4 linked regions of the Homo sapiens genome follow. The protein of the gene in region 1 purifies or fractionates together with the protein of each later gene. This does not show direct contact. Each region holds a gene or a part of one and is shown in the gene's direction. Other genes may lie near its edges. The genes, in order: NOP10, NAF1, SHQ1 and DCAF4.

The links.
Region 2: the proteins of NOP10 (region 1) and NAF1 purify together in Homo sapiens (co-immunoprecipitation; 6 studies listed by BioGRID and IntAct, with this or other methods). This does not show direct contact.
Region 3: the proteins of NOP10 (region 1) and SHQ1 purify together in Homo sapiens (co-immunoprecipitation; 2 studies listed by BioGRID and IntAct, with this or other methods). This does not show direct contact.
Region 4: the proteins of NOP10 (region 1) and DCAF4 purify together in Homo sapiens (co-immunoprecipitation; 2 studies listed by BioGRID and IntAct, with this or other methods). This does not show direct contact.

What each region holds. Positions count from the first base shown.
Region 1 is NC_000015.10:34,340,729-34,347,994, reverse strand, and holds NOP10 (H/ACA ribonucleoprotein complex subunit 3), read left to right. Parts: upstream 1-4,858; 5' UTR 4,859-4,921; coding exon 4,922-4,975; intron 4,976-5,886; coding exon 5,887-6,027; 3' UTR 6,028-6,276; downstream 6,277-7,266. Other genes in the region: NUTM1 (NUT family member 1), read right to left, coding at 1-26, 1,960-2,053, 4,293-4,298. UniProt on the Homo sapiens protein: Required for ribosome biogenesis and telomere maintenance. Part of the H/ACA small nucleolar ribonucleoprotein (H/ACA snoRNP) complex, which catalyzes pseudouridylation of rRNA.
Region 2 is NC_000004.12:163,135,438-163,142,969, reverse strand, and holds part of NAF1 (H/ACA ribonucleoprotein complex non-core subunit NAF1), read left to right. Parts: intron 1-2,586; coding exon 2,587-2,747; intron 2,748-5,719; coding exon 5,720-5,771; intron 5,772-7,532. UniProt on the Homo sapiens protein: RNA-binding protein required for the maturation of box H/ACA snoRNPs complex and ribosome biogenesis.
Region 3 is NC_000003.12:72,838,097-72,845,628, reverse strand, and holds part of SHQ1 (protein SHQ1 homolog), read left to right. Parts: intron 1-1,205; coding exon 1,206-1,270; intron 1,271-3,226; coding exon 3,227-3,349; intron 3,350-4,429; coding exon 4,430-4,584; intron 4,585-7,532. UniProt on the Homo sapiens protein: Required for the quantitative accumulation of H/ACA ribonucleoproteins (RNPs), including telomerase, probably through the stabilization of DKC1, from the time of its synthesis until its association with NOP10, NHP2, and NAF1 at the nascent H/ACA RNA.
Region 4 is NC_000014.9:72,921,113-72,929,605, forward strand, and holds the start of DCAF4 (DDB1- and CUL4-associated factor 4), read left to right. Parts: upstream 1-5,351; 5' UTR 5,352-5,431; intron 5,432-5,658; exon of another isoform or gene 5,659-5,817; intron 5,818-8,452; exon of another isoform or gene 8,453-8,493. UniProt on the Homo sapiens protein: May function as a substrate receptor for CUL4-DDB1 E3 ubiquitin-protein ligase complex.

The sequences.
Region 1 (7,266 bases):
CATATCCGGTCCCGGCAATGCAGATGCTGTTGAGACAAAGAAAAAGAAGAAATGGAGTAGGAGAAAAGAAGACCAGAGTTAGCCATCTGAATTCCCCATTTTTTTATTTTTATTTTTATTTTTATTTTTATTTTTATTTTTTGAGATGGAGTCTCGCTCTGTCGCCCAGGCTGGAGTGCAGTGGCACAATCTCGGCTCACTGCAATCTCCGCCTCCTAGGTTCATGCCATTCTCCTGCCTCAGCCTCCTGTGTAGCTGGGACTACAGACGCCCACCACCACGCCCGGCTAACTTTTTGTATTTTTAATAGAGACGGGGTTTCACCGTGTTAGCCAGGTTGGTCTCGATCTCCTGACCTTGTGATCCGCCTGCTTCGGCCTCCCAAAGTGCTGGGATTACAGGTGAATTCCTCCTTTATTTTTAAATTTTTTTGTAGAGGCCGGGCACGGTGGTTCATATCTGTAATCCCAGCACTTTGGGAGGCCAAGGTGGAAGGATTGCTTGACTCCAGGAGTTTGAGACCAGCCTGGGCAACATGGCAAAACCCTGTCTCCATTAAAAATACGAAAATAAGCCAGGTGCGGTGGCATGCACCTGTAGTCCCAACTACTTGGGGGGCTGGGGTGGGAGGATCGCTTGAGCCCAAGAAGTTGAGGCTGCAGTGAGCTGAGATTGCGCCTCTGTGCTCCAGCCTCGGTGACAAAGGAAAACTCTGTCTCAAAAAAAAAAAAAGAAAAATTGTAGAGATGACGTCTCGCTATGTTGCCTAGGCTAGGCTCAGACTCCTGGCCTCAAGTGATCCTCCTGCCTCAGCCTTCCAAAGTGCAGAGATAACTGGTGTGAGCCACCACACCCCATCTGAGTTCTTCTTTAGACCCGAAGACTCAAAGCACTGATTCTCAACAGGTGAAAGAGGGGATATGGATGGGGAACTTGCATAGTTTGCAAATGTCCCCCAAGTGATTTTGATCTTACTTCTCGTTGAGAATGACTGCATTAAAGAAGTTGCTTCTTTTTCAACAAGACACACAGACCCCTATCTGCCAAGAAGAGACAAGCCCAAGCCATCACTGCCTCTAAGTGCTGCTTTTTTTTTTTTTTTTTTTTTTTTTTAGATGGAGTCTTGCTCTGTGGCCCATTCTGGAGTGCAGCAGCACGATCTTAGCTCACTGCAACCTCCGCCTCCTGGGTTCAAGTGATTCTCCTGCCTCAGCCCCGCAAGTAGCTGGGATTACAGGCACGAACCACCACATCCAGCTAATTTTTGTATTTTTAGGACATACGGGGTTTACGCCATGTTGGCCAGGCTGGTCTCAAAAACCTGACCTCAGGTAATCCACCCGCCTCGACCTCCTAAAGTGCTGGGATTACAGGCATGAGCCACCGCACCCGGCCCAAGCAGAGGCAGTTTATAATACATTCCAGCCTAGTTTTCAGGAAGGCATTTCTCTGCAACAGATAACTACAGATTATCTTTTCCCACTAAGGTCCTTCCCACCTTACCCTCCCATCCTCCATCCTCCACATCCCCTTCCCCTCATAAGCTCAAGCATGGCAAAATCCTAGAACAGGCTCCAGTTGCCTAAAAAAGACAGATGAACTTGGGCCTTCCCCCTTGAAACCTCTCTGTGCCAGTCCTAAGACACATACCCCTGATCCTCTCTCCCACCACAAAAACACATGCGGAAGTGTCCCCTGTTCAAGAGAATCAAGTTGCTAATTGCCATCCTTTCTCTATACTCAGCATGTGTCCTCAGAGACACCTTAATCTGTCCTTAAGGAAGTCCTCTTCCTTCCCCAGCCCCTAGTCTTAAAGGTACAATCTCCTTCCCTAGCCTCCCCAAGTGTGATACCTTTGACGGGGTGTAGCACCTCACATTCCTTTAGGTCAGCCCAGAGAGCTTGTCTCAAAGGATATGAGCAGGTACCAGAAATCCTCCTCACCACCTGCAGACTTACCTCCATCTGAAGCCATCCTCTCAGGTTTGGGCACTAACTGTGGCTGTCTGGAAGCCTCCAGAATGAGGCAGTCAGGTCCAGGACCCAGAGTAACCTGGCTCCAGTAGGTGCACAGGGATCCAAGGAAGGGAAGGTAAAGATCAGATCACACAGAACTAGAATACGGAACTCAAGGCATTCTGCTGTGGGGGAGGGGAGAGGGAAAAGTGGGGTGAGGGTGGGGACAGATATTCCATGAAGGGTTCTAGTAAGTATGAAAAAACCAGGAATTCCCTTCAAACTACAGTTTGGCAACACAATTGATGTTTGCCTCTTTAGGGCTATTTGTAAACTTTTTCTCAGATTCCCAACACATTACAGTTTTACCGTTTGGTTCACTACACTTCGATTCTTCACCAACATATCTCATTTTGTGTCCTTCCATCCCAGCCAGTTCTGTAACTGACTTCCTATTAACAGCAGGTTGACTGTAGACCCCTGACTTAATTCAATGATGGCTATATTTTCTGAACTAAATTCAGAGTACATTGGTCTATACACGTAAGGATCAAGGGAACTAAAGTTTAAAATTAGAATTGTCAGATGATCCAAGGTGCTCGATTGCTGTGTGCACATCATTTCCTTGGAAAGCTGTCCAATCTACTAACATAGGCTCTGTACTCCACAGACGCCTTACCCTTTGCTGAAAAGCCTCACTAAATAAAAAAGCTGCCATGCAGTTTAAAATTTCAAGAGTAGAAAGTCCTTCTTTTTGTTAAATTATTTTGGTTTAAACTTTAAAAATAAAATTTATCTGCTAAGGTTCCTGGCGACTATTTCAGGCCAGTAACTCCCAGAGCATCCTCTACAGCCACAGCTTCATCCAAACGTGGATTTCCCCCAAAAGGCCTTCCCTGGGGTTCATGGCATCTTTCTTGCTTCCTCTGAGATATCTTTTCTCTTTTCTAAAGACCTGAAGGCTAAAATCATCATTTTCCTTTCTAACAAAATTAACTACTTAGATTTAAATTTTTTTTTTTAAACAGAGTCTCGCTCTGTCACCCAGGCTGTAGTGCAGTGGCGTGATCTCTGCTCACTGCAAGCTCCGCCTTCCGGGTTCACGCCATTGTCCTGCCTCACCCTCCTGAGTAGCTGGGACTACAGGCACCCACCACCATGCCCGGCTAATTTTTTGTATTTTTAGTAGAGACGGGGTTTCACTGTGTTAGCCAGGATAGTCTCGATCTCCTGACCTCATGATCCGCCCGCCTCAGCCTCCCAAAGTGCTGGGATTACTAGGCGTGAGCCACCGTGCCCGGCCTTTAAAAAATTTTTAACAGGTAATAAATACATTAGCAAGGTTCAAAAATCAAACTGCGTAATAAAATACATAGCAATAAGTCTGCCTCCCAACCCTTACCCCTTTCTCCTGCAACTAAGTTCTCTATCCCAGAGGAAACCAGTATCATCTGTTTCTTGTGAATACTTGCAGAGATTTTTTATGCAACTACAAGTAAATACAAACCATATTCTTTTTTTTTTTTTTTTTTTTTTGAGACAGGATCTCGCTCTGTCGCCCAGGCTGGAGTGCAGTGGCGTGATCTTGGCTCACTGCAACCTCCGCCTCCTGGGTTCAAGTGATTCTCCTGCCTCAGCCTCCCGAGTAGCTGGGACTACAGGTGCCCGCCACCACGCCCCGCTAATTTTTGTATTTTTGGGGGTTTCACCATATTGGCCAGGCTGGTCTCGAACTCCTGACCTTGTGATCCACCCGTCTCAGCCTCCCAAAGTGCTGGGATTACAGGCGTGAGCCACCGCGCCCAGCCACAAACCATATTTTTTTTTCTTTAAGACGGACCCAGGCTGGAGTGCAGTGGTGCTATCTCAGCTCGCTGCAACCTCTGCCTCCCCGGCTCAAATGATTCTCCTGCCTCAGCCTCTGAAGTAGCTGGGACTACAGGCGCCCACCACCACGCCCGGCTAATTTTTCTGTATTTTTAGTAGAGACGGGGTTTCGCCAGATTGGCCAGGCTGGTCTCGAACCCTTGACCTGTGATCTGCCTGCCTCAGCCTCCCAGTGTTGGGATTACAGGCGTGAGCCACCGCGCCCCGCCAAACCATATTCTTAAAAAAAAAAAAAAAAAAGTGCAGGTTTTTCTGGTTACACAGTTAATATATATTCCAATGCTTTTGTCATTGTAAATAATGGCGTAACGATGATCTTTGTAATGATATTTTGGTTCTCATTTTCATTTCTTTAAACGAGAGTCTTATAAGGAGAACTTCTATATTCTTTTAAAAATTGTAAAAACTCCTAGAAGGTGCACTTTATTACGTTATTATTAGCTACTCACCACCATAAGAAAGAGCGCTGAATTTGCGGTAGGGACCTAACTTTAAATCTTGGTTCGACCGCTGAAACATGCTTCACCAGTTTCATAAAATAACTTTACGCTCTTTCGCTTTACGGAATATTGATACTCAACATGCATTCTTTACCGCCAACGCTTTGAAATGGAGCAGGGGAACTGGATGTAAAAGAGGGGAGGGAAGAAAACCTCTTCTTTCTTCCCTAGGGTAAAGGGGCTCTGAATCCTGGAGCCCTTGTTTCTTCAGGCATTGAAAACTCACTGCTCCTGAAATGGGTGTGTATCTTGAGACAAAGACAGGCTTCTATACGTCAATATTCTATCCACATCCATCCCTACCCCCCTCTAACGCCGTGTACCTAGCACACAGTAGGGACACTCCACGTGTTTTAGCCTGCAAAGTTGCAAGTAGGGCCCCAAGCCAAGCCCTGCTCTCGTGCGCCCCCTTCTGGCTAGCTGAAAACAAGGCAAAAATTGACTACATTTTCCGGAGTGCCAGGAGAGAGAGACTTCCGGTTATGCAGGAAGGAAATTGACGAACACGTGACGCGGTCGGGCGGACCACTGCAGACTGAGCGGTGGACCGAATTGGGACCGCTGGCTTATAAGCGATCATGTTTCTCCAGTATTACCTCAACGAGCAGGGAGATCGAGTCTATACGCTGAAGGTGAGGAGAGAAAACAGGGTGTAAATAGGCATGGCGAGAAATGTAGATGGGAGGAGTGGGTGAGGTCATACGTGGAGTTACCTAGCTGGGTGCGGGGAACCAGAAAGTCCAGAACCGAGGTGGGGAAGAACCGGGACCGCGCGACTCATTTTTTAATTAAAAGAAAAAATTCTGGCGGGGCGCAGTGGCTCCCGCCTGTAATCCTAGCACTTTGGGAGGCCGAGGCGGGTGGATTGCCTTAGCTCAGGAGTTCGCGACCATTCTGGGCAACACTGTGAAACTCCGTTTCTACTAAAATACAAAAAATTAGCCGGGCATGGCGGTGTGCGCCTGTTATCCCAGCTACTCGGGAGGCTGAGACAGGAGAATCGCTTAAACCCGGGAGGCAGAGGTTGCAGTGAGCCGGGATAGCGCCATTGCACTCACTTTTCCTTTTTTTTTTTTTTTTTTTTTTTAAAGACAGGGACTCGCTTTGTTGCCTAGGCTGTAGTGCGGTGGTGCGGTCTCGGCTCACTGCAACCTCCGCCTCCTGGGCTCAAACAATCCTTCTGCCTCAGCCTCCCGAGTAGTTGGGACTACAGGCGTGCGCCACCATACCCGGCTAATTTTTGGTTTTGGGGTTTTTTGTTTGGTTGGTTGGTTTTGTTTGTTTGTTTGTTGTAGAGACGAGGTTTCGCCATATTGCCCAGGCTGGTCTCAAACCATCCTCCCGCCTCGACCTCCCAAAGTGCCAGGATTACAGGCGTGAGCCACCGCGCTCGGCCTTTTTAAATTTTATATTTCTCTATTTATTTGTACAACTTTTTGAGTTGACCATTGCATCTTCTATTTTCATGTTTGCCCTTTTTCGCGCTGGCCCCACCCCATTTCATCACTCCTGTACTGACATACATTCTGTGTTCCTGGAGCAGAAATTTGACCCGATGGGACAACAGACCTGCTCAGCCCATCCTGCTCGGTTCTCCCCAGATGACAAATACTCTCGACACCGAATCACCATCAAGAAACGCTTCAAGGTGCTCATGACCCAGCAACCGCGCCCTGTCCTCTGAGGGTCCCTTAAACTGATGTCTTTTCTGCCACCTGTTACCCCTCGGAGACTCCGTAACCAAACTCTTCGGACTGTGAGCCCTGATGCCTTTTTGCCAGCCATACTCTTTGGCATCCAGTCTCTCGTGGCGATTGATTATGCTTGTGTGAGGCAATCATGGTGGCATCACCCATAAAGGGAACACATTTGACTTTTTTTTCTCATATTTTAAATTACTACAAGATTATTAAAGATAAAATGATTTGAAAAACTCTTATTTTGTGAGTTGTTGGAGGAAAGGATTGGCAGTATTTTTTTAAAGGGAGGGAGATGATAAAGGAGAGTACCCCAGAGAGTTGCAACAATACCACTTGGAAGAAAAACTTCAGTCCTGCTGTTGCAAGAGTGGTCATGTGCTGTTCATGATAGGAGGGTATTGGGGAAGAAAGATTAAGACTTTCACAGCTGTCAGCATTCACTGAAAAATACCTCTGTTGTCACTTAACGTAATTTCTTGTCCCTTGAAATAAGATTTTGATTAAAAATGGAAGAGTACTTGTAAAAGTAATAGGCATATTACAGACAGAGGTCAGTGAATTGAAAGTCAGAAGACCAGTATTTGCTTTTTGTATAACTTTGAGAAAGTTACTTAACCTGTTTAGTCTGATTTTTCTCCTGATTAACTTATCTTTGAACTCAAATTGATTTAGTGGTGGGCCTTTCTTTTTTTTTCTTTTGAGACAGAGTCTAGATCTGTTGTCCAGGCTGGAGTGCAGGGGTGCAGCCTTGGCTGACTACAACCTCCGTCTCCCAGGTTCAAGCAATTCTCCTGCCTCAGCTTCCCAAGTAACTGGGATTACAGGTGCACGCCACCACACCTGGCTAATTTTTGTATTTCTTTTAGTAGTGACAGGGTTTCGCCATGTCGGCCAAGCTGGTCTCAAACTCCTCACCTCAAGTGATCCACCCACCTCAGCCTCCCAAAGTGCTGGGATTACAGGCATGAGTCACCACACCTGGCCTGGGTCTTTCTTTTTTTTTGAGATGGAGTTTTGCTCTTGTACCCCAGGCTGGAGTGCAGTGGCGCCATCTTGGTTCACTGCAACCTCCGCCTCCTGGGTTCAAGCTATTCTCCTGCCTCAGCCTCCCGAGTAGCTAGGACTACAGGCGCACACCACCATGCCTGGCTAATTTTTGTATTTTTAGTAGAAACAAGGTTTCACCTTGTTGGTCAGGCTGATCTCAAACTCCTGACCTCAAG
Region 2 (7,532 bases), on another chromosome or scaffold:
AATCAGGTAGTATGGAAGTTCCAGAATCCCCTAAGTTGGGTGGAATGACCAAGAAGGGATATGGGTGCCTCCTATGGAGCTGTATGAGGAGAAGTGGGCCGGCCTGAGCCTTGCTGTGTCTTAAGTTGCTCTTTACAGTTTAGCTCTCAGGTGTTAGTCAATCTAAACTCTACACTCAGAGGCTAATGGTTATTTAAAATATTGTTAAATTCCTCTTTTCTACTCTGGATTAGCCAAATTGCTTATGTGAACTTGGTCAAGTTTTCCTGTAACATACCTATTAGTATTGGCTCATGCCACATACTGTCTATTGTATGGCTTCCTGTTATCTACTGCCTGTGATGTTGTTTTACTTAAAACTTTATAATGATTTCATTATAGTTGTGGCTCATAAACACTTCAGAACCTAGGAACAGTCAACTAAAATACTATGCTTTGCTTTTGTCCAAGAATTTTGAATGTCACTTATATTTTAGTTCAAACCATACTGCACAGACCTGAAGTTGGCAAGGAATTTTTCCACTGAAATTGTTTTTCACACTTAGGAAATGGATTCATGCTATCTAGGAAACAAATCCCTGGGAAACAGTCTGTGTACCAGGTTGCAAACGATGATTATTTTACCTTGTATTAATGGATACACAGGAAACTTAAAAGATATTTTTAAATCTCTGACCAAATGAAGAATTGGGTTTGTGTATATGTGAGAGAATTAAACTTGTGAATTGTTTTTAAGACAATTTTAAGTGAAAGTAAGACTACAATAATATATGTCATGTAGGCCAGTAAGAGTGGTGCTGAGTGCACCTCTTCTGTCCTTCACAGTTCTTACTGGACGAGGTCTACTGGATTTATCTAAACCTTTTCAAAGCAGATGTCTTGCTATTTTCTTAAAGTTTTTTGCTTTTACACTTTTTTAAAGCTTTAAATTTGTGATGCTATTAGTGTTATTTCATAATACATTGGCATTTTAATAGTTTTTAATGTCACTACTTCTTTTTAGAGTACACATATCTTCAGAATGGTGGTGCCCTGATAGGTGAGCTGTTTTACGCCTTAATGAAAATTAATGAAAGATTCAGTGCTGTACTGAAATCATAAAATGTGAAGAGCATTTACTATCAAAAATCAAGAACTGAGGATGTGATAAAACAGCCATGTTCAATGCAGTTGGTATAAATTGGTCCAAGCTATTTAGAAAGCTATTTAGTAATTTCCATTAAAACTTTTATGCCTTAGTGTTAATTATCGTACTTTCAGCTTCAATACCTCCACTCCTTACAAATCAATTTTTAGGAAGTCTGAAGTATAGTGATTTATATATGTTTATCATGGCATCATGTATTATGTTGAACAAATTGGAAGCTGCCTAAATGTCCTACAATAAGAAAGAAGTTAAGTAAGTTGTCCTGAGTCTGTAAAGGGGTGTTTTATGATAGCTAAAATTATACTTACAAAGAATATAACATGGAACAACTTTAGGTTTTTAAAAGGGGGCAGTATACAAAACTACAGTATGGTCTTAAAGAAAAAAATAACGTATTATAGAAAAAAGACTGGAAAAATCTATACTGGCATTGATCATGGTCTTATCTCTATAATATACATATATTATCTCGCTTTTGTCCCCCAGGCTGTAGTGCGATGGCACAATCTCGGTTCACTGCAACCTCTGCCTCCTGGGTTGAAGTGATTCTCTTGCCTCAGCCCCTGAGTGGCTGGGATTACAGGTGCCTGCCACCACACCCGGCTAATTTTTGTATTTTTAGTAGAGACAGAGTTTCACTATGTTGGCCAGGCTGGTCTTGAACCCCTGACCTCAGGTGATCCGCCCGCCTCACCTCCTAAAGTGCTGGGATTACAGGCGTGAGCCACTGCGCCCAGCCAGAAAATATATTTTTTAATTCACGTATTTTGAGAAGAAAGTACAATTTGAAACCAAGAAGTTTCCTTTCATTATTCTTAAAACGTTTTCAGAAGTAAAATATGTGGTTCTGCTAAAAGCAGTTCTTTTAGTTAAATGTTAAAGGCTGCACCATCTTTGTGTTTTTTAAACATAAATAACTTCTACTTTATTAGTTGTTAAATTAGAAAAAGTCTGTAATTTTACAAAATTCCTAACACTGTGGAAACAGCAAAAGTGATTTAACTCCTATTGAAGTCAGAAGCTTGCTTTTATATTTCCCATCTGATGATTCCAAATGTATACAGTTTTCTCAAAAGTTACCAATTATAATCCTTTTCTGTGTACTTTACAAGTTAAATGAGCAATAATTTAAAAAAATCATAATTTGCATCGAGTTGGTACCATCAAAATGATTTGAATTTGGTGAGGAACAAACTTGTTACTATTGTTTCACATTCATAGAAGGGAAATCTGGAATGAGCGAGTGCATTTTAATCAATATATGAAGACTGAATATGTAAAAATGACATAAATATAACTAAAAAATTATTTTATTGCCCTAACACTGACAAAATTACCTTGTTCTGGCAATTATCAGTGGGATTTTTAAAAGAAAACACTGCTGACTTTTCAAATAGTTATTTTACATGTTAAAAGAGGCCTTTATGTTTCTATTACAGATATTCGAGATATTTGGACCTGTTGCACATCCATTTTATGTGTTACGGTTTAATTCTTCAGATCACATTGAGAGTAAAGGTATTAAAATAAAGGAGACTATGTATTTTGCTCCATCAATGAAAGATTTCACTCAATATATATTCACAGAAAAACTAAAACAGTAAGTACTTTACCGGCATGTTGTTCTTCACTTACCTAACGTTTATATTTTAAGAATAATTCTCAGTGATGTAATTTCTTACAGTTATATTGTGTGTGTCTTGCAAAGAGTTCATTTATCTTCCTAATAATATCTTTGAAGCCTACAATTTATTTTCAGATTTTGTACGTAGAATTCATATCTTTTGTAAAAAATGAGATGATCAGCCATTAAGAGCACATTTGAGCCATGTACACTTTCTGATTCTAGTTCAGTGTTTTTTCCATTATGTACATTCTTTAATGTACTTACTATTTTAGTATTAGTACTAATATTATTATCATTTCTTAATAACTTTTTTTTCAGTTAAGTAAAATTCTCTTTGGATTCTATTTAGGGGCCTTGCTCTTCAATAAAACTTTAAAATAGTTTTCAAGAGAAAAAAAATGAGTGTTATCTCTTTATTTTGCTTATAAATTTTAAGTTTGTAGAAGAGACAACTAACACGTGTCCCTGAAAAATTGTGTAGAAAGTTACGGTGTATGGAGTTGACCTAACCAACAAACCAGTGCTCTCCATTTTGTCTATCAATAATGCTAAGTGATTTCTGTGGCATGTGACCGCAATATTTTTTTATATTTGTGCTCCCATTGGTTGAATATTTTTCAAATGTTAGCTGTTGCCAGCTGTTAGTTGTAGAGCTGTTTGTATCAGCTAAACTTGTTATAATTATGTTATTTAATTTTTTATATCAGCAAATAGCATATGAATTTAAGATTTTTTTTTAATAAAAATAACTTGAATGCTTTCGAATGATGTAATGAATATGAGCCACTAAAAATATTTTCAAATTGGGAGTGGAAGAAAAGACTGCCAAAGACTGGGGGAAGGTTAAATCCAGAAAGACTTTGCACTCAGTTTGACACAGAAGTTCCTTTTAGTTCTAGCTCTTCTTTTATTGGAGACTTAAAACCTAGGCGATACATTTTTATAGATGTTGTTTTTGCAGGAAAACAAAGGAACTTTGGTCACTGAGTAACTTTGGTATTATGTCAAAGGTACCAACCCCAGTTGCATGGCATAAGAAGATTACTTATACCACTTACATGTTAAATCAAGTCTCAAGTCACCAAATTTCATTTATTTCAGAGATGAAAATTTTGATCCTGATAATTGATTTAACTCATGTTTAAGAATCTACATAAAGATCTGGAGGAATATTTTGCCTAAGTTATTCTTCACATTGCATAAGGTTATTTTCTTAAATAACACTGACAAGAAAGATGAATTAAATACACATAAAGTCTTCAAGATATTAATATGTTCTAAAATGCTTTAAATATTTAGCATTTCATCCTGCTTTGAATATAAAGATACTGCTGTGGATATGCCATATATTTAGCTTTTTAACAAATAGAGTATTTTAGCTTAAAACAGATAAATTTGAAGAGGTTTTCTGAAGATGGTTTTTAAATAGATTTTAGATAATAGACTCAGTCTTTGGTTTTGATTTGCAGTTCTTCTATTAAGAAGCAGTAGTAAATCAGTGAATTGGGAAATTAGACCTATATTGCAGAAACCTCCCTCTCCCAGGAAAACTGTTGTATTCTAGACCTCATTTTGGCATCTGTCATGGGAACTTGGTGGAGTACTTTGTCTTTGAGGTAGAGAAGTTCAGCTCCTTTCCAGCTTACTGTTCTCTAATGAGGCTATTTTGATCTTAGTTTCTCATGTACTTACTGTCTTGTTAAAAGTGCCTTTTGAAATGTTGCTTGATCTTTCCTTTAGTAGATTTTGATTTTTTGTAATAGACGCACTAGTTGGGGAATTTTTCCCATTTATGTCTGTGATTCCAGGCTAACAGCAGTCCAGATCATGAGATGTCATATGTGCAGAAAGGAATACCAGAGATATATTTAAGGCCCATGTGTGAAATGACAATTGAGGAAATGCTTTTTTCTTTTAAGTGATGGAAAAGCCATTGATAATGGCTCATATATAATGTCAAAGTTCCGAATCAAAAATTTAAAGCAAACTTAATAACTTTCATGTTGTGCCAGCAAACTGACATCTGTACATTGATTTTAATGGCCTTAATTCCTGGGAATCTCATTTATTTTTGAGATCTAGTTTAAAACAATAAGGACATCTAGTCCTAATACTTTGTAATATTTTACTTTGTGATATTTTAACATAATGGAATAACAAAATAGTAGCTGAAACTATGAAATTAACAAAATTAAAAAGATTAAAAATGAGCTTTCACAAATTATACTGCTCATAATAGATATCTGTACTTTTGTTGGATGTAAAGTGTAAAACTCTCCACCAAAAGTTGTTGATTTTCAGCTGCAATTACACATTTCACACATGCCAGTCATTATATTGTCCTTCAGAATCTTTAAAGCAGCTTCTCTTCCTCTTCCTCCAACTATTCATAGTTAGCCTTTGTTTGACCCTCACTGCTTTGAGAATCAGTGTTGGAATAAGCCTTGGTTACTCATAGAGGATTGCTGACATTCCTCAGGTAAACTGAGGAGAAAATAATTCATATTGATATCTCTGCCATTAAACCTGTAAAATCTGTGAAAAGGGAATGCCTCATAGTCATTTTTATGTCCTTCGCACATGGAACAACTTCTGATCTACAGTTGGCGTGAAATAAGCATTTTTTTTAAACTGAGTTTTGTGAAAACTGCAAATATTATGAAAACAAAAATCAAAAGAGCTGTCCATCTGCTTTCCACTGCACACCATAGCCTTGGCTTCTCATTCCAGTTCCCTAATCCTAATATTTCTACTTGCTCAACTTTTGTGTTTTTCTTAGGAGCTTCCCACATCTTTTGAAATAAGGTAAAAGACACATAACTGTATTGCAAAATTAAAGGTTGAACTCATGTCCTTTACTTTATTATTTTCTGTACTTTTAAGTTATGAGCACTTAATAGAATTGTGATGAATACTTTTTTGACTCCCATCCCCACCCCACTCAGGGATAAGGGATCAGATGCATCATGGAAGAATGATCAGGAACCACCACCAGAGGTAAGTATAAGTCTTTTTATGCAACATTTTATAAAGTAGGGCAGGACTTAATCTTATAAATTTTATCATTCTTGCTGTTAGGGAAGTCATTAATACTGGCTAGCAGCCATACTGCCTTATCCTGTCCTAGCGCATGTATTCTCTCACCGTCCTAGATGACTATTTCATACCTTTCAGTGAAAGGTTTTGATTGATCATTTAGGAAAAAAACTTTTTTCAGTTACATTTAGTTGTATTTTAATAATTATCACCTTATCATTTACATTGTAGTTTACTATTTTTGTCAACTTTGTTGATGTCTGATAAAGGCAGGCTGTCATTATTTTTTAAAAATTTAATTGAGTTTAGTAAATACACCATATGGGACATGAAGACATGGTGCTTTTAATAGCTGTCCTTCTTTTGGAAGTACAGAATCATTGGAAGCACAAGATCATTGGAAGCTACCTACCTCTCTACTTTTTACGATATAACTACCTTTCTAAAAAGAGACCTTGATTTTCTTTTTGTATCTATGTCAGCAAAACAATAGTTTTATGCCCCAAGGTGACTTGATAATCTAGTCTTCCTAGAGATGTGAAGTAAATTTAGGAATAATATGTAAATAAGTTAATGATTTAATAGGATTACTTGGTTAACATTCCATGAAAGTGTTTAAGCAGATTATCTTGAGGGGTTTTTTTTTTGAATTACAACAATGAATATATTCATTTCTTAAAAATAGCATGTATTTATACAGTATAAAATAAAAATGTATATAAATATTTTTATAAGTAAAAATTATACATGAGAGTTTTTAAAGCTTGCTCAGCAGTTCTTATGAAGTTTTCTCAGTATTACAGTTTTTTTTTTGTTTTTTTTTTTTTTAACAAATATAGACATGGGGGTCTCAGTGTGTTGCCCAGGCTGGTCTCAAGCTCTTGGCCTCAAGTGATTCTCCAGCCCTCAAGCAAGCTTCTGCCTTGGCTCCCCAAAGTGCTGGGATTACAGGCATGAGCCCCTTGCCCAGCCAGTATTACAGATTTTTGATACTTACCGATTTAACCTTGGCCATTTTAGATGTTTAAAGCAATCGTAAATCATGATCTGTGTTTCTAATTTTACTGAGGTATGAATCAGGTTTATGCCCACTTGGAGGGTTCTATACAGGTATGAATCACTTAACCAGTGAATGATCCTTGCTTAGTATCTGAATTGAAATGGAATTATGTTTTCTAATTAATGTTATGTATTTATGTGATTTCAGTTAAGGCTCTGAATATTCACTTAATGTTCTGAATTAAGTTTTAGAGTATCTATAGCATCTTATTACTGGAATTACATGTTTTAAACGTGTTTAGAGATTCATAAACATCTCAAATCATATTTCTTTTAAAATCCAGATATTCTTTTTTTCTTTTTTTGGGTAGGGGATGGAGTTTTGCTCTTTCTGCCCAGGCTGCAATGCAGTGGCACGGTCTCAGCTCACCGCAAACTCTGCCTCCGGGTTCAAGCAATTCTCCTGCCTCAGCCTCCTGAGTAGCTGAGATTACAGGCGCATGCCACCACGCCCAGCTAATTTTGTATTTTTATTAGAGACGGGGTTTCACAATGTTGTCCAGGCTAGTCTTGAACTCCTGACCTCCAGTAATCCACCCCTCTCTGCCTCTCAAAGTGCTGAGATTTCAGGCGTGAGCCACCGCACCTGGCCAAAATCCAGATATTCTAATGAATCCCTCTTGTTTCGGACCTAAGCATTGAAGTTACCAATTACAACAATGC
Region 3 (7,532 bases), on another chromosome or scaffold:
TAGACACTTTTTAAAATAGAAAAGTGACAATTAGATTCCTGTTTTAGAAAAATTATTTTGGAGCCTCAGTGGAAGACTGATTGAACTAGGGTAAAACTGGAAGCAGGGAAATCACTTCATTTCTTTTTTCTTTTTTTTTTTTTGGACACAGAATCTCACTCTGTTGCCCAGGCTGGAGTGCAGTGGCAAATGATCTCGGCTCACTGCAACCTCCCCTTCCTGGGTTCAAGTGATTCTTCTGCCTCAGCCTCCTGACTGGCTGGGGTTACAGGTGTGCACCACTATGCCTGGCTAATTTTGTATTTTTAGTAGATATAGGGTTTCTCCATTTTGGCCATGTTGGTCTTGAACTCCTGACCTAAGGTGATCGACCCACCTCGGCCTCCCAAAGTGCTAGGATTACAGGCGTAAGCCACCACGCCCAGCCAATCACTTCATTTCTTTTAGTACAAAAGAGGGGTAAATCCCTACATAATAATGATGAGATTTGACACTTTTGCTTTCTGCTTTTTTTTTAAAGTAGTAATTTGCCTGATAAAATCAATTGGTTTTGTGTTTCTTTATTGTTTCCCATTGAGTATCCCTTATCTGTACAGATTGAGTGTCCCTTATATGAAATTTCAGATTTTCTAGAGTTTTGGAATATTTTTGCATACATAATGAGATATCTTGAGGATGGAACTCAAGTTTAAACACAAAATTTATTTGTTTTATATACACCTTATACATATAGCCAGAAGATAGTTTTATGTAATTTTTTAATACTTTTGTGTATGCAGCCAAGTTTTGACTGCTTTTTGACTGTGACTCATCACATGAGGTCAAGTGTGGAGTTTTCCACTTTGTGGTGTCATGTTGGTGCTCAAAAAGTTTCAGATTTTGGAGCATTTCAGATTTTCAGATTAGGGATACTCAACTTGTGTTATAACAATAGTGATAACTACTATTTATTATGGCTTTTCTTTTTCAGTATCTATTTTGTTGGTGACTAGGGGTATTCAAATAGAAAGATGAGTCATCTCTAATTTCTACTTTCTTGGTTGGGGAAAGAATCTAACTTAGTTTATTAAAATGTGAAAGAAATACTGAGGAACTTCTTAAAAAATGATTGATATATTTTGATGGTTAAATGTTTGCAAGTATTGATGGCCACTTATGTTACGTTATAATTTAAGGACTTCATGAGACCTGTGTTAAATCTGCAGATTAACCCTTCCTGGAAGAATTGTAGAAAATGGAAGTGAGCAAGGGTCCTATGATGCAGATAAAGGTATTGTCTTTGGAATTTTTGTTAGTTTATTTCTTGGGATTTTTCACATTATTTACATAATAATCTTACAAGATACCATGGGGACCTTTTGATGTCTTTCAAATACAATCTGTTCCTATCACTCTTTCTTGTTTCTTAGTGTCCAGTGCCTGTTATTGATGTTCCCCACCCCTCACAAGTCTTTTAAAGTATTTCACAATGTTCTTCAAAGTAAAGTTAACTGCTCCGGTTCTATTTCCTAGAGTACTTCCCCTACATTTAGTAGACATTTAAAAGTAAAAATTAGAACATGTGAAATGATTGATCATAAAAAATGTAGATGACTTATGAGCTTATGAATGGAATCTTTCTGGTATAATTTTCAAACTTGAACTTTAATAACAGGTAGGTGAGAGAGAAACTATGCATGGGTGGCATTTAAAGGCTAATTGAATTTTCTCCTCATGATTGATAAGCCCTTCATTTCAGCTAGCCATGAACCCATTTATTTTTCCTTTATAGAAGCCACTGGCTTCCTTTGTCATCGGATTTAGAACACCTTGTGTAGTCTTGTGTACTTTATTCAATGAATATTGACCTCAGTGAACTAGGCTAAGGGTAGGGTATGGGGGGGTGGGTTAAATGACAGAGATCTAACCCATAATGCAGTGTAATTAATGTGTAATGAAGTATAGTGAAACTGCCTTCCTAGGTAGTAAACCAGCTTTTAGTTATAGGTAAGTTGCATATTGAAACAAAATTATTAAATTTTTAAAGTACACAGGAGTTAAGGAAGATTGTGTATGCGGAGATATTTGGGCTGAGTTGTATTTGATATGTTGGAATTCAGTTCAGTACACTGAAAGAGGCAAAATGTTTTAAAATGTCAAAGTGCTAAATAATGTAGTAAGTTCCCAGGGAAGCCTAAATAAGATAGATAAACTCAGTCAAGGAAAGAAAAGAAGTACATAGACTTTAGGGATTTGAGTCTGCCATAGACTTTAGGGATAGATCTCCTGACATGCCAGAAAACCTTATTAAGCCATAATTGTTGTATCTAAGATTCTGTGTATTTTTAAAACTGTTGCCATTCTCCATTGGATTAGGTATTCTGATTTTTTCCTCCTTTCCCAGAAGTCTAATTAGTAACTCCTGGTTAATTCTAAGCTATTACCTTCTTAGGCCATTGATTTTTATAAGTTTTAACTTGGATTTTTAATATTATCAGTAGGTAAAGGTCATACTGTATAAGACTAAAGTATTCTGTAGCTTTCACAGATAAATAATTTTTTTTTTTTTTTTTGAGACAGAATCTCGCTCTGTTGCCCAGGCTGGAGTGCAGTGGCGCGATCTCGGCTCACAGCAACCTCTTCCTCCTGGGTTCAAGCGATTATCCTGCCTCAGCCTCCCAAGTAGCTGGGACTACAGGTGCACATGCCACCACTCCCAGCTAATTTTTGTATTTTTTAGTAGAGATGGGGTTTCACCATGTTGGCCAGGATGGTGTTGATCTCTTGACCTCATGATCCGCCTGCCTCGGCCTCCCGAAGTGCTGGTATTACAGGCGTGAGCCACCTTACCCAGCCAGATTAATAATTTTTGATAGAAATGACAGCTTCTGAAAAACCCTTGTTAAGAACCTTTTTCTATCTTGACTTGTATTCACCAAATCTATGAGGGCATAGTTTTAGAGCCTGTAAAATAGAATTATGTTTTACCAAGACATGTATTTCTCAGATATATTTGTGAAGTCTTTGACTATTTTATTTATTTATTTTTTTCTTTTAATTAAAATGATTTTATTATTATTTTCTGTAGAGATGGGGTCTTGGTATGTTGCCCAGGCTGGTCTTGAACTCCTGGGCTAAAATGATCCTCCTGCCTCAGACTGCCAGAGTATTGGGATTACTGGTGTAAGCTATTGTGCCCAGCTTTTTAAATATTTTAATCTAAGCATAAAACAAATTTATCTTTAAGGAATTTTTACCATTCGCCTGCCCAAAGAAACCCCTGGCCAGCATTTTGAGGGGCTGAACATGTTAACTGCTCTTCTGGCACCAAGAAAATCCAGGACAGCAAAACCACTTGTGGAAGAAATAGGTATGTTTATTACAGTTGGGAGGAAATTAGGATAAATAGAAATATTTGGAATGCTGTGTATTTGTAGGGGAAATGGGATATAGTGAATAGGAAATTGAAGAAAATACTTCAGGTATAAGGTGATCATGTGAAACCATATGAAAATAGCTTCTTTGGTGATATAATTAAGACATTAAAAATCCTATTGAACCAGATCACTCACATTTTTGGACCAATTGAAACAACATTTTGTGGTTGGCAAAATATTAGCATCTTGAGCTAAGATCAGAAGTATACAGTTAAGTGAGTTACGTAAAACAGGGGTCCCCAACCCTCAGGTTGCAGACCAGTACTGATCCATGGCCCGTTAGGAACCTGGCTGCACAACAGGAGGTGAGCGGAGGGCCAGGAGTATTACTGCCTGAGCTCTGGCTCCTGTCAGATCAGATTAGATTCTCATAGGAGCATGAACTTACTGTGAACTGTGCCTGCGAAGGGTCTAGGTTGTGTGCTCCCTATGAGAATCTAAAGCCTGATGATCTGAGGTAGAACAGTTTCATCCCCCAAAACTATCTCTTTACCTCTTTGATCTGTGGAAAAGTTGTCTTCCACAAATCCGGTCTCTGGTGCCAAAAAGTTTGGGAACCACTGATGTAAAGTGAACACCACCTCTGTCAAGAAATGGAGCATTTCCAACACCCGAAGAATACCATCCTGTATTCTTCCATTACTTTGCCCTCTCTCCAGGGTAACCACTATCCTCTGTTTTGCCTGTTTTTACGTTGCATATGTAGATCATACAGTATGTGTTCTTTTTGTCTGGCTGCTTTCACTTAACATTATTTTTGTGAGATTTATTCATATTCTAGCTGAGATTCGTTTGCTTTCATTGCTCTGTAATATTCCATTGTATGAACATACCACATTTTTGGTTCTTTTTTTTTTTTTGCTGTCACGAATAGCGGAGCTATGAATATTCTTTTAGTACATTTGGTATATGTCTTTTGGTACATCTTTGTGGGCATTTTTTCCTATACTTTTTCTTCCCCTAGTTGTACTTAAATCCAATACTTAAAAAAAATTAAAATTTAACACATTCAGGTGCTTCTGAGATTCCTGAGGAAGTAGTTGACGATGAAGAGTTTGATTGGGAAATTGAGCAGACACCCTGTGAAGAGGTATCAGAAAGTGCTTTGAATCCGCAGTGCCACTATGGATTTGGAAACTTACGATCAGGAGTGTTGCAACGGTTACAGGTATGTTGTCTTTCTGAAAGATCTTGATCTATAGGGTTTTTCCATTTGGATATTTTAATTTCAGTTATGCTTACACTTGGTAGTTTTTAAAAATAATATTACAGGAGGTGATTGTATTTAAAGCACTTAGCACAGCTAAAGTACATAGATGTGCATTCCCTTCCATTTCATTGGCTGTTCTGCCTAACTGTACTGCTCTTACAGACACCCCGTGGCTTTCTTTTTTCTCCCCTTTATTCAGTATTCTAGACATGAAGTTTCCCAAGTACAAAGCAGAACTCCTCTCTCATACTTCCTGCAAAGCTTTATGTTTTATACTTCTGAAAAGTGAGATCATGTACTTACGGCATGATGTCTCTTCTTTTCTGTATATAAATGAAATAGAATGTTCCTGGCGAGAATGAGATTGTGTGTTTTGATCAAATTGTCTAATTCTTGGTGTATAGTAGGCACCATTTTCTATTCTCTTTTTTTTTTTTTTTTTGAGACGGAGTCTTACCCTGTCGCCAAGGCTGGAGTGCAGTGCAGTGGCACGATCTCGGCTGATGGCAGCCTCTGCCTCTAGGGTTCAAGCAATTCTTCTGCCTCAGCCTCCTGAGTAGCTGGGATTACAGGTGCCTACCACCACGCCTGGCTAGTTTTTGTATTTTTTGCGGAGATGGGGTTTTACCATGTTGGCCAGGATGGTCTCAAACTCAAGTGATTTGCCTGCCTTGGCCTCCCAAAGTTCTGGGATTATAGGCATGAGCCACTGTGACCAGCCTATTGTTTATTTATTCTTTTTTTTTTTTTTTTTTTTTTTAAGACAGAGTCTCACTTTGCTGGAGTGCAGTGGCACGATCTTGGCTCACTGCAACCTCTGCCTCCCGGGTCCAAGTGATTGTCCTGCCTCAGCCTCCCAAGTAGCTGGGATTACAGGCGCCCATCACCACGCCTGGCTAATTTTTCTATTTTTAGTAGAGATGGAGTTTTGCCATGTTGGCCAAATTAGCCGGATGTGGTGGTGCGTGTAATCCCAGCAGTTTGGGAGGCTGAGGCGGGTGGATCACGAGGTCAGGAGCTCGTGACCATCTTGGCTAACACGGTGAAACCCCATCTCTACTAAAAATACAAAAAATTAGCCAGGCATGGTGGCACCCACCTGTAGTCCCAGCTACTCAGGAGGCTGAGGCAGGAGAATCCCTTGAACCCGGGAAGCAGAGGTTGCAGTGAGCTGAGATCTCGCCACTGCACTCCAGCCTGGGCAACAGTGTGAGACTCTGTCTCAAAGAACAAACACAACAAAACAAAACCTGTTTAGAATGTGGTTTATTATCTTAAGACATATTTGAATTTACGAAGGAGAGGGAAAAGACCTGGGTTCTGGTCCCGCTCCTACCTCTGTTAAGATTTGGGATACCAGGCCAGTTATTTGACCACAAGTAAGTTTTGTCTCCTCTTTGGAAAGTGGAGATAAATTTGCCCACCTACTTTATAAGGCTGTCTTGAAAATTTAAAAAGATAATGCATGTGAAAACTCTTTGGAAAGTGTAGAATGCTGTAAAGACTCCTGCCTTTGAAAAATATAAAATGGTCTCAAAATTCCTTAAAGGGAACAACATTGAGATTTACTTAGGAGCAAATGCTGGTGAAATAGCCTTCCTTCTAAAAACTTAGGTGTTTTTCTGCTGAGTTGTGGTCTGCCCATATTCTCTGCTTGATCACAATCGCTGGTGATCTCAGAGGTAATTAGAGTAGAGTCAGTTTTGTCTGTAGCAGGAACTACAGTGAATGGCCCTCAATTGTTGGCCAAGAGATAGTTTGTGGTCAGGCTGTTTTGGGCTTGCCAATCTAACGCTGTACATGAATGATAATAAATGTCACACAGGCTAAGTATGGATTTTACATTTACATTAGAAGTGCTTCTTTGAGGCCAGGGATTTGTTACTTAATTGTTGCTTCTGTTTACGGAAAATCCTTTTGAAAGATTTCTGACAGGTTGCTGAGATGTTGTAGGAATGCCATAATGTGAGCCTAGAATGAGTGCCTTTTAGGTCAGAAATTCTTGTATCTTGAAAATGTTCACTTAATAATTTAGGTTTTTTTTTTTTTTTAAGCTGCTATACTTTCTTTTTGGATGTCTTAACTAATGTATCAAATACCTAGACATCTATTACTTAGGTTAAAAACATTAAACATTAACCAATATAGTTGACTCCTGTCTAATCCCTTTTTGTTTACATCCCTCTGTTTCCCATCAGAAATAAACCACTGTGGCTGGGTGCAGTGGCTCACACCTGTAATTCCAGCACTTTGGGAGGCTGAGGCAGGCGGGTCAGGAGTTTGAGACCAGTCTAGCCAACATGGCAAAACCCTGTCTCTACTTAAAAATACAAAAATTAGCTGAGCGTGGTGGCGCATGCCTGTAATCCCAGCCATTTTGGAGGCTGGCAGGAGAATCGCTTGAACCCAGGAGGCAGAGGTTGCAGGGAGCCGAGATTGCGCCACTGCACTCCATCCAGTCTGGGTGACAGAGTGAGACTACATCTCAAAAAAATAAAAAAGGAAATGAACCACTGAATTTAATGTTTATTATTCTAAGCTTTTAAAATGGCTTAATCATCTAAAATCATTAAACTCTTCTTCAAATTTTAATTGCAAGAGCATTGCTTTTCTAAACAATTTGAATGAATATTCCCTAATGTAGGGGAAAAACAACTGAGCATTTGGGAAAACTCTAAGGGTTTTATAACGTAAATAGTATACTACTTGTAGTACAGGTTTATAACCCCATATGTGCAATACTGGGATCACACAAAGTTCTGAAAACTAAAAGTTAAAATATTTAATTTGGTGGCAAAACTTAACCTGAACCGATACAGATTTTTAAATCCCACTTAGTGTACGTATTCAAAAATTTCCTGTAGAAGTAGTGTTTGGATATGGGCGCTGCCCCAGACATCTTAGAG
Region 4 (8,493 bases), on another chromosome or scaffold:
AGGAGATGTCTACCTACAAAGGGATTGATCAAACAAGTAAATAAAAATAATGAGAACCTCACTGCTGGAGAAGGAAGCTACAAATACAGAAAGGGAGAAAACTAGAATCAGCCCTATATGATGGATTGGAATTGGAGATACTGGTGTAAACTCATGGTTTTCAAGATAGGTGGGTAAACTGATAGATGTACAAATAAATATAGATGTCACAGTGAGTGTGGGAGTGTGTGAGTGTGTGTTCCCAACTGTAACCATGAAGAGTGCCTTGGAACAGGGATACCGTAATAGCAATAAGCACACTTAGCATTCAGGTCTTGGCTTCTAAATACCAATTTCTATGACATGGAGATTAAATTCAATTGAATTAAATTGAATGGAGCTGAAGATTAGGTGACAGTGGTATATCAATGTCAATTTTTCAGTTTTGATGGCTATGCTTTGGATACATAGGAGAATGCCTATGTCTGTAAGAAATACAAACTAAAAGTATTCCAGACTGATGACACATCAAGTCAGTGGTTACCCTCAGGAAAAGAAAAAGAAAAATTCTGTAGTTGGAAGTTTTCTATTAGTTTGTGATTGTTTTCAAAAACAATTTTCTTAAAATGTACTTACATTCCCAGCACCTAGAACAGATCTGGCATTCCAAGTGCTCAATAAATATTTGTTGAATTAATAACTGAAAGATATAAACAGTTAGAACAAACACATGCTTAGAAAAAACACATCCAAATATTAACAGTGGTTTTTTTGGAGGGATAGATTTATCACAGGTAATTTGGGTATTTTTTCACTTTGTGCTTTTCTGCTTCTCAAGTTTTCTTAGATTATTATGCATTATTAACTGTTATATTGGTCAGGCTGCTAACCAGCTAAGACTAGTATTTTAGAGGCAAAATCTTGTCCCCAGATTTATGGGTTTCAACATTTTGTGTATTAAGTTATTGGGACCAGATCCTTGGAAACTGCTTGTCTACCCAAGTACACAGAATACGAATATGATCAGTTAATTATTGAGACATGTAACTTCCTGATGTCTAGAATATTCTTGCCCATTACCCACGGCTCCCTCTTTTCCAAAATCATGATAATGGAGTCAGTCATCAGCAGTTTGGTGAATACGTAATCATACAAAGAGGTGTAGAGAATTTTGTTGGGTATTTCATTAGGTTAGCAAAGGAACTAGAGGCTAGGGCGCGATGGTTCACGCCTGTAATTCCAGCACTTTGGGAGGCCAAGGCGGGTGGATCACCTGAGGTCAGGAGTTCAAGACCAGCCTGACTAACATGGTGAAACTCTGGCTGTACTAAAAATACAAAAATTAGCTGGGCGTGGTGGCGGGAGCCTGTAATCCCAGCTATTCGGGAGGCTGAGGCAGGAGAATTACTTGAACCCAGCAAGCAGAGGTTGCAGTGAGCCGAGACGGCGCCATTGCACTCCAGCCTGGGCAACAGAGCAAGACTCCATCTCAAAAAAAAAAAAAAGGAAATGAACTAGGGAATTGTTCTATATCAAGATTTTCAGTGACCAGCCAGATGCAGTGGCTCACGCTTGTAATCCCAGCACTTTGGGAGGCTGAGGCGGGCGGATCACCTGAGTTTGGGAGTTCGAGACCAGCCTGACCAACATGGAGAAACCCCATCTCTACTAAAAACACAAAATTAGCCGGGCGTGGTGGCACATGCCTGTAGTCCCAGCTACTCGGGAGGCTGAGGCAGGAGAATCACTTGAACTCAGGAGGCGAAGGTTGCAGTGAGCCAAGATCATGCCATTGCACTCCAGCTTGGGCAACAAGAGCAAAACTCCATCTCAAAAAAAAAAAAGATTAAGATTTTCAGTGACCAAGACACTCACTTGGATACTACTGAAAAAACACTGAGAAATTCTGATGAAAATGATCCTTTTTCTAGGCCCTGGATGGACTGTTACCCCACAATGGGCATGTTAATTTAATTACATTTCTCTTGCATTGATTTTATTTTGGATTAGTCTCCATGATGTGATTTGACAGGCATCCTAGTTCCTGTGGCAACTTACGTACAAGTCACCTCTTAAAATAGCCAACTCCTGCTGGGTGCAGTGGTTCACGCCTGTAATTCCAATACTTCAGGAGGCTGAGGCAGGAGGATCACTTGAGCCCAGGAGTTTGAGACCAGGCTGGGCAATATAGTAAGACCCTATCTCTATAAGAAAAAAAAGTGTTTTTTTATTTTTTTTTTTTTTATTTTTGAGATGGAGTCTTGCTCTGTTGCCCAGGCTGAAGTGCAGTGGCACGATCTCTGCTCACTGAAAGCTCCGCCTCCTGGGTTCACGCCATTCTCCTGCCTCAGCCTCCCGAGTAGCTGGGACTACAGGCGCCCGCCACCACGCCTGGCTAATTTTTTGTATTTTTAGTAGAGATGGGGTTTCACCATGTTAGCCAGGATGGTCTCGATCTCCTGACCTCATGATCCACCCACCTCTCCCTCCCAAAGTGCTGGGATTACAGGCATGACCCACCACGCCCAGCCTGTTTTTTCTTTTTTTAAAAGGACAACTTCTGCAGTTGATTTAAACAAATGTTGATTTGTTTAAATTAACATTTAAATTTTATATTTTGGGGGATGGGAGGATGTGGGGATGGCTAATGGGTACAAAAACATAGTTTGAAAGAATGAATAAGATCTAGTATTTGAAGGCCGGGTGCAGTGGTTCACGCCTGTAATCCCAGCACTTTGGGAGGCCAAGGCGGGCAGATCACCTGAGGTCAGGATTTCAAGACCAGCCTGGCCAACATGGCAAAAGCCCATCTCTACTAAAAATACAAAAAATTAGCCAGGCATGGTGGAGGGCGCCTGTAATCTCAGCTACTTGGGAGGCTGAGGCAGGAGAATAGCTTGAACCTGGGAGGCAGAGGTTGCAGTGAGCCGAGATCACGCCACTGTACTCCAGCCTGGCAACAGAGTGAGACTCCATCTCAAAACAGACAAAAAATATATATATATTGTTTTAGTCTTTGCCATGTGCCAGATATTTTCCAACCTCTTTCTATAGATTCATTCCTTTTCATTACAACATTTGCCTTGGCTTCAAATTCTGGAGATGAAATGAAAAAATAATTTTTACTTTTGAAGGTAATATACACCATCTAGATACCATGCTACCTTTATAATCGCGGGTGCTTAACCAATGGGCGCTGTGCACCAAGTCCTGGGTGAGGTACTCCATCATCAGCGCTTACTCCTTACAACCTTTCTCAGTAGATGTCTTATCCTCATTCTAATCTGTGAAGAAACTGAGGTTGGAATGCCTCATGACTTGCCCAAGGCCCAGCAAGCTTCATTTGTTCACTGATTTGCAAACATTCTTTAATCTTTCATCTGTGTGTGTTGCAGGTCCCCGAGGTATATCTCATGCCCACGTCACTGTCCCCTCTGTGGACATTCAACAGAGCCTGCTGGCCGGCTGCCAGCCACTCATTGACTCAGCAAGCCCAAGCCAACTCCTCCTGCCACCTTCCTCAAGTGTCCCCTGGCTCTTCAGTGGAAAATCCAGCTTGACTCCTCCCCGAGAGTTAAGTCTGGCCGATTCTCCCTCTGAATTCTGCCTCCCATCTGTACCCCCCTTCCATCCTGGCTACCCCCACCCTGGTTTGGCCCTCACTACCTTTCACAAGGACTGTTGCTGCAATAAGTTCCTTAGGGGTCTCCCAGCTGACTTCCACAATCTTTTCTCCCCAACCCCCTACACGGTGATTTCCCAGAAGCACAGCTCTAGTCCTGTCACTTCCCAACTCTAGAACCCTCAGAGCCTCCCATTGTCTACTTTTTTTTTTCTTGAGACAGGGTCTCACTCTGTCACCCAGGCTGGAGTGCAATGGCGCTATCTCGGCTCACTGCAACCCCCGCCTCCCGGGTTCAAGCAATTCTCCTGCCTCAGCCTCCTGAGTAGCTGGGATTACAGGCGCCCGCCACCACGCCCGGCTAATTTTTTGTATTTTTAGTAGAGTTGGGGGTTTCGCCATGTTGGCCAGGCTGGTCTGGAACTCCTAGCCTCAAGTGATCCACCCGCCTCAACCTCCCAATGTGCTGGGATTTCAGGCGTGAGCCACTGCACCCGGCCTGACTACTCTTTCCCTGGCAATTGCTGCGTCACCAAGCCCCAACCCACCCTGCTGAGTTTTCCTTCCAAGACTCCCCTCCCATCCAGCCGGCTTGAACCGGCCTCCAGTCACGTTGTTTGTTCAGCTAGAATTTTTCTCTGCCTTCTCTTCAAGGCCGCTCAAGCTTCATGAAGCGGTTCTTTATTCTGACTATGCCCACTTCTCTCATTTCCCTCATCACCCGGCCCCGCTCCACATACTGCATTTATCTATAAACTCCTGAGAGCCAGGAGTTTAGCCTGAAATCCTAGCTTCCTGGTTAAGAGCTGAAATGCCTTCGCACGGCGTGCAATGGGTGAACCCCACCGCCTGCTTTCTAACGGGTCCAAGCCGCGGGCAGGGGCCTGTGTTACGGAGCCGCATGACACACCAGGCCTACTGCTGGACCCCAACAAGCCTAGCCTCTGTGAATCCAGCTGTCCTCACAAACTGTCTCTTCGGGACACAAGCCCATCAGAGGCTTCCGTTTTCCTTTCATAAGATCTCATAACCGTCAGCTGATACCTGGGACAGGCACAGCACACATAGGTCATTCTAGAAATATTGGTGGTCTGAACAAACTCTAAGCTGGAGAGGACATGAGAATGATAGATCCGATTCCTTCTCTCAACAGAAGAAATCAAGGCACAGAGAAGGGAAGAGACTCGCCCTAGGTCCCACAGCAAGCAGCAGTACTGGAGCCAACACGGAGGCCCCCCGGTTTCACGGTCAGGGCTCGCTACGCTACACCCTGAACGCAGACCCAGGGCAGCGGCCTCGGCCGCCTGAGGCCACTGCCGAAGACTTCGCCGCCAGTCGTAACATCACGTTACTTCTGTCCCTCGCCTCACAGACTCCTTCGCTCTTTCCACTACAGCGAGAGGACTTCTCCAGGGCCGCATCACCCTGCGGAGGGAGGAAGACACGGTCTCTCACGAAAGGGTCTCCAGACAGTTCCGCTGCTCCGGGAGCAGCCCCCGGCCCCGCCCCCGCGTGCGCCTGGCCCCACCCCCAAGCGCTCCATGACCAGCCTCCACGTGCATCCGCCCCAGACAGGCCAGGCCTGGGAGGAGCCGAAGCCCCACTCCCCGCCTTCTTCATGAGATCGTCCCTATTGACGTCGACAGACAGAAGCCGCGTCCAGTGAGAAGGAAAGAACGGCCGCTATAGCCCTATCGGCTGCTACAACACCAAAACGCATCCACCTAACTGGCTGACGCTACACCTTGGTCTTTCCGGGTCCTTGCACGCTTCGCTCCAACTCCTGCAGAGCTGAGCCGGAGGGGAATCCGGAAGGGACACGCTGAACAGGTAAGACTGTGCTGCCTGGGGTGCCTACTGGCATCGATTCGAGGGCTGCCGCGCTCCCGCTGCAGAGCTCGGGGTGGGAGACAGGCGCGGCGAGGAAGGCCAGGGAAAGGGGCGGGGAGGGGCGGGGAGGAGTGAGCACGTGGAACGCCGGCGCCACCGGGCCTAGGTGGCAGCTGGGCCGGCGCGCTCCGCCCGTTCTGGGGCGCGTGGGGCCCTCCGGCCGGATCAGTGCTGCAACCGTAAACACGCAGGGAGGGCACCCCGAGTGTCGCCGCTGAGGGCGTTTCTCTAAGCGCTTCTCTGAGACCTGCTGCTGAAGGCCCCACCCGACACCTGGCGGGGGCTGGGCTGCGGGCCTTGGGGCGGTGTCCCCTGTGAATGTTCAGGTCAGCATAACAGGTTAGGTGTGGTTGAAGCTTACGAAGTGGCCGGCTCTGTGCTGCCGGCTTCACAGGCGCTAACATTTGCCAGCGCTATGATGTCCTTGTCAGACGCAGAAAGGGGTGCAGTTTGGTTGTCCGTCGGGGTAGCGCACAACTAGCAAGTGATGGGGCCTGGGTTTGGCCCTCGCCTCCACTCTGAGTTGTGAGTTAGCGAGAAAGCCACGCCTCGTGGGCTCCCCGGGGGCTTCAGAAACCATGACGCCTTTCACCATGGTGTTCTACAGGCATTGTCTTGTGACTCCAGCAGCGCAGCCAGAAGCAAAGAAAACTGAGGGGACGGCTTCCTAGAGGAAACAATTCCAAAGTCCCAAACTCTGATTTTAAATAACGATGGAAATTAGAGTCGCGGTGGTGTTCTTTTTTTTTTTTTTTTTTTTTTTTTTTTGAGGCGGAGTCTCGCTGTCGCCCAGGCTGGAGTGCAGTGGCACGATCTCGACTCACTGCAGCCTCCGCCCCCGGGGTTCACGCCATTCTCCTGCCTCAGCTTCCCGCGTAGCTGGGGCTACAGGCGACCACCACCTCGCCCGGCTAATTTTTTGTATTTTTAGTAGAGACGGGGTTTCACCGTGTTAGCCAGGATGGTCTCGATCTCCTGACCTCGTGATCCGCCCGCCTCGGCCTCCCAAAGTGCTGGGATTACAGGCGTGAGCCACCGCGCCCGGCCTGAGGTGGTGTTCTGTGGGTAACCAGGCCTGGGGGTCCTACCAACAGAGGTGGAATCCCTGTTCCACCATTTAACTTACGCTGGGTGTGGTACCTAGTCCTGTAAGCCTGTTTCCTCATTTGTAAAATAGGATTGAAAATACCAACTCAGGGTGGGCGTTAGTACAAAGCTTGCGCCTGAAGTATTTCTTAAATAAGTGTTAAGAGAAAATTTTGTTGTTTTTTAAGTCAGCTGTCTAAAATGTTGTTTTACAGTGAACAACTCCTAACTGCTGGGATTATAGGCATGCACCACCACACCCGGCTAATTTTTAAATTATTTGTTAAGATGGGGCGGAGGGGTGTCTCACTATGTTGCCCAGGCTGGTCTTGAACTCCTGGGCTCAAGCTATCCTCCCACCTCAGCCTCCCAAAGTGCTGGGATTAGAGGCGTGAGCCACCGCCCTGGCCTGTAGAAGCTACTTTGTATTCAGCTTTACAGACCAGTGGCGTTAGCGTTTTGCACATTACAGCCCGCTAGTCTACAGAATCCCCCCACTTTTTTTTTTTTTTTTTTTTTTTGATACGGAATTTCACTATTGTTGCCCAGGCTGGAGCACAGTGGCGCGATCTCGGCTCACCGCAACCTCCGCCTCCCAGGTTTAAGGGATTCTCCTGCTTCAGCCTCCCGAGTAGCTGAGACTACGGGCGCACGCCACCGCGCCCGGCTAACTTTTTGTATTTTAGTAGAGACAGGTTTTCACCATGTTGGCCAGGATGGTCTCACATATCTGCCGACCTCGTGATCCGCCCGCCTCGGCCTCCCAAAGTGCTGGGATTACAGGCATGAGCCACCGCGCCCGGCCAGTCTACAGACTCTTACAAAATTCCCCTGTTGTTGGATATCTAGGATGTTTCTCACTTTAACTATTACAGCATGGTGTAGTAAACATCCTTTATATATATATATATATATATATATATATATAGTTCACATACCCTAAAATTAACTTTTTTAAAAGGGTTCAATCCAGTGGGTTTTTTTATTATTATATTGGCAAGATTGTGCAACCATCACCACTGTCTAATTCTGGAACATTCTCATCCACCCAAGAAGCAACCCCGCGGCCCCAGGGTGCCCCAGTCTCAGAGCCCCGGTTGTTGGGCTCCAGTCCAGGCCCCCTAACCATGTGCTAAACAAGATGGTGAGGCTCAGCCTGGAAACCAGAACAGCCCCGAGGCCCCCAAACTGGAGAGCCCCAAGGGGAGATGGAGCCCCTCCCCCATTCTGAGTTTTGGCCCCGTGCTAAGGCTGGACCGACCCCCTGTGCTGTCAAGCCTACCTCCCAGGGGAGGCGAGGCCAGCCCCGATGTGTGCGGGCTGCCATCCCCCACACTTGGCTCCGGGGCTGGTCGGTGTTGGGCGTCCCAGCACTGCGGGCGGCACGGACGCCCGGGGCTGCTCCCTACTGGGTGTAGCGCACCCCGCCCCCCACCCCGCCCGGCCTCCTCTGGGCCTGCGCCTTGGGCCTATTGAGGCCAGGCCTGGAATGGTGCCCTGGAAGCAGGAAAGAGCCTGTAATTCCGGAAGCTGCGGGCTCCCAAACCAGACACCATTTTGGAGACCGGTGCAAAAATGTGTGCCGCTTTTGTGTGGAAAACTGCTAGACTGTGAGAGAGAGCCGACCTCCTCATGCATGAACCTTTATAGAGGGTGGTCCACATATTCTGTGCACTACATACACATACGCTGGGCACATACTGGCTCTCTGTGTTAAATCTCAGATTTGCTGCCGCGCGTGGTGGCTCACGCCTGTCATCCCAACGCTGCGCCAAGGCAGGAGGATCGCTGGAGGCCAGAAATTCGAGACCAGCCTGGGCGGCAACAAAGCGAGACCCCGTCTCTACAAAAATATTTTTTATTTTTATTTTATTTTTCCGTCAAGCTGTTCTTTATTTCAGGAAGAGGGCAGGGGA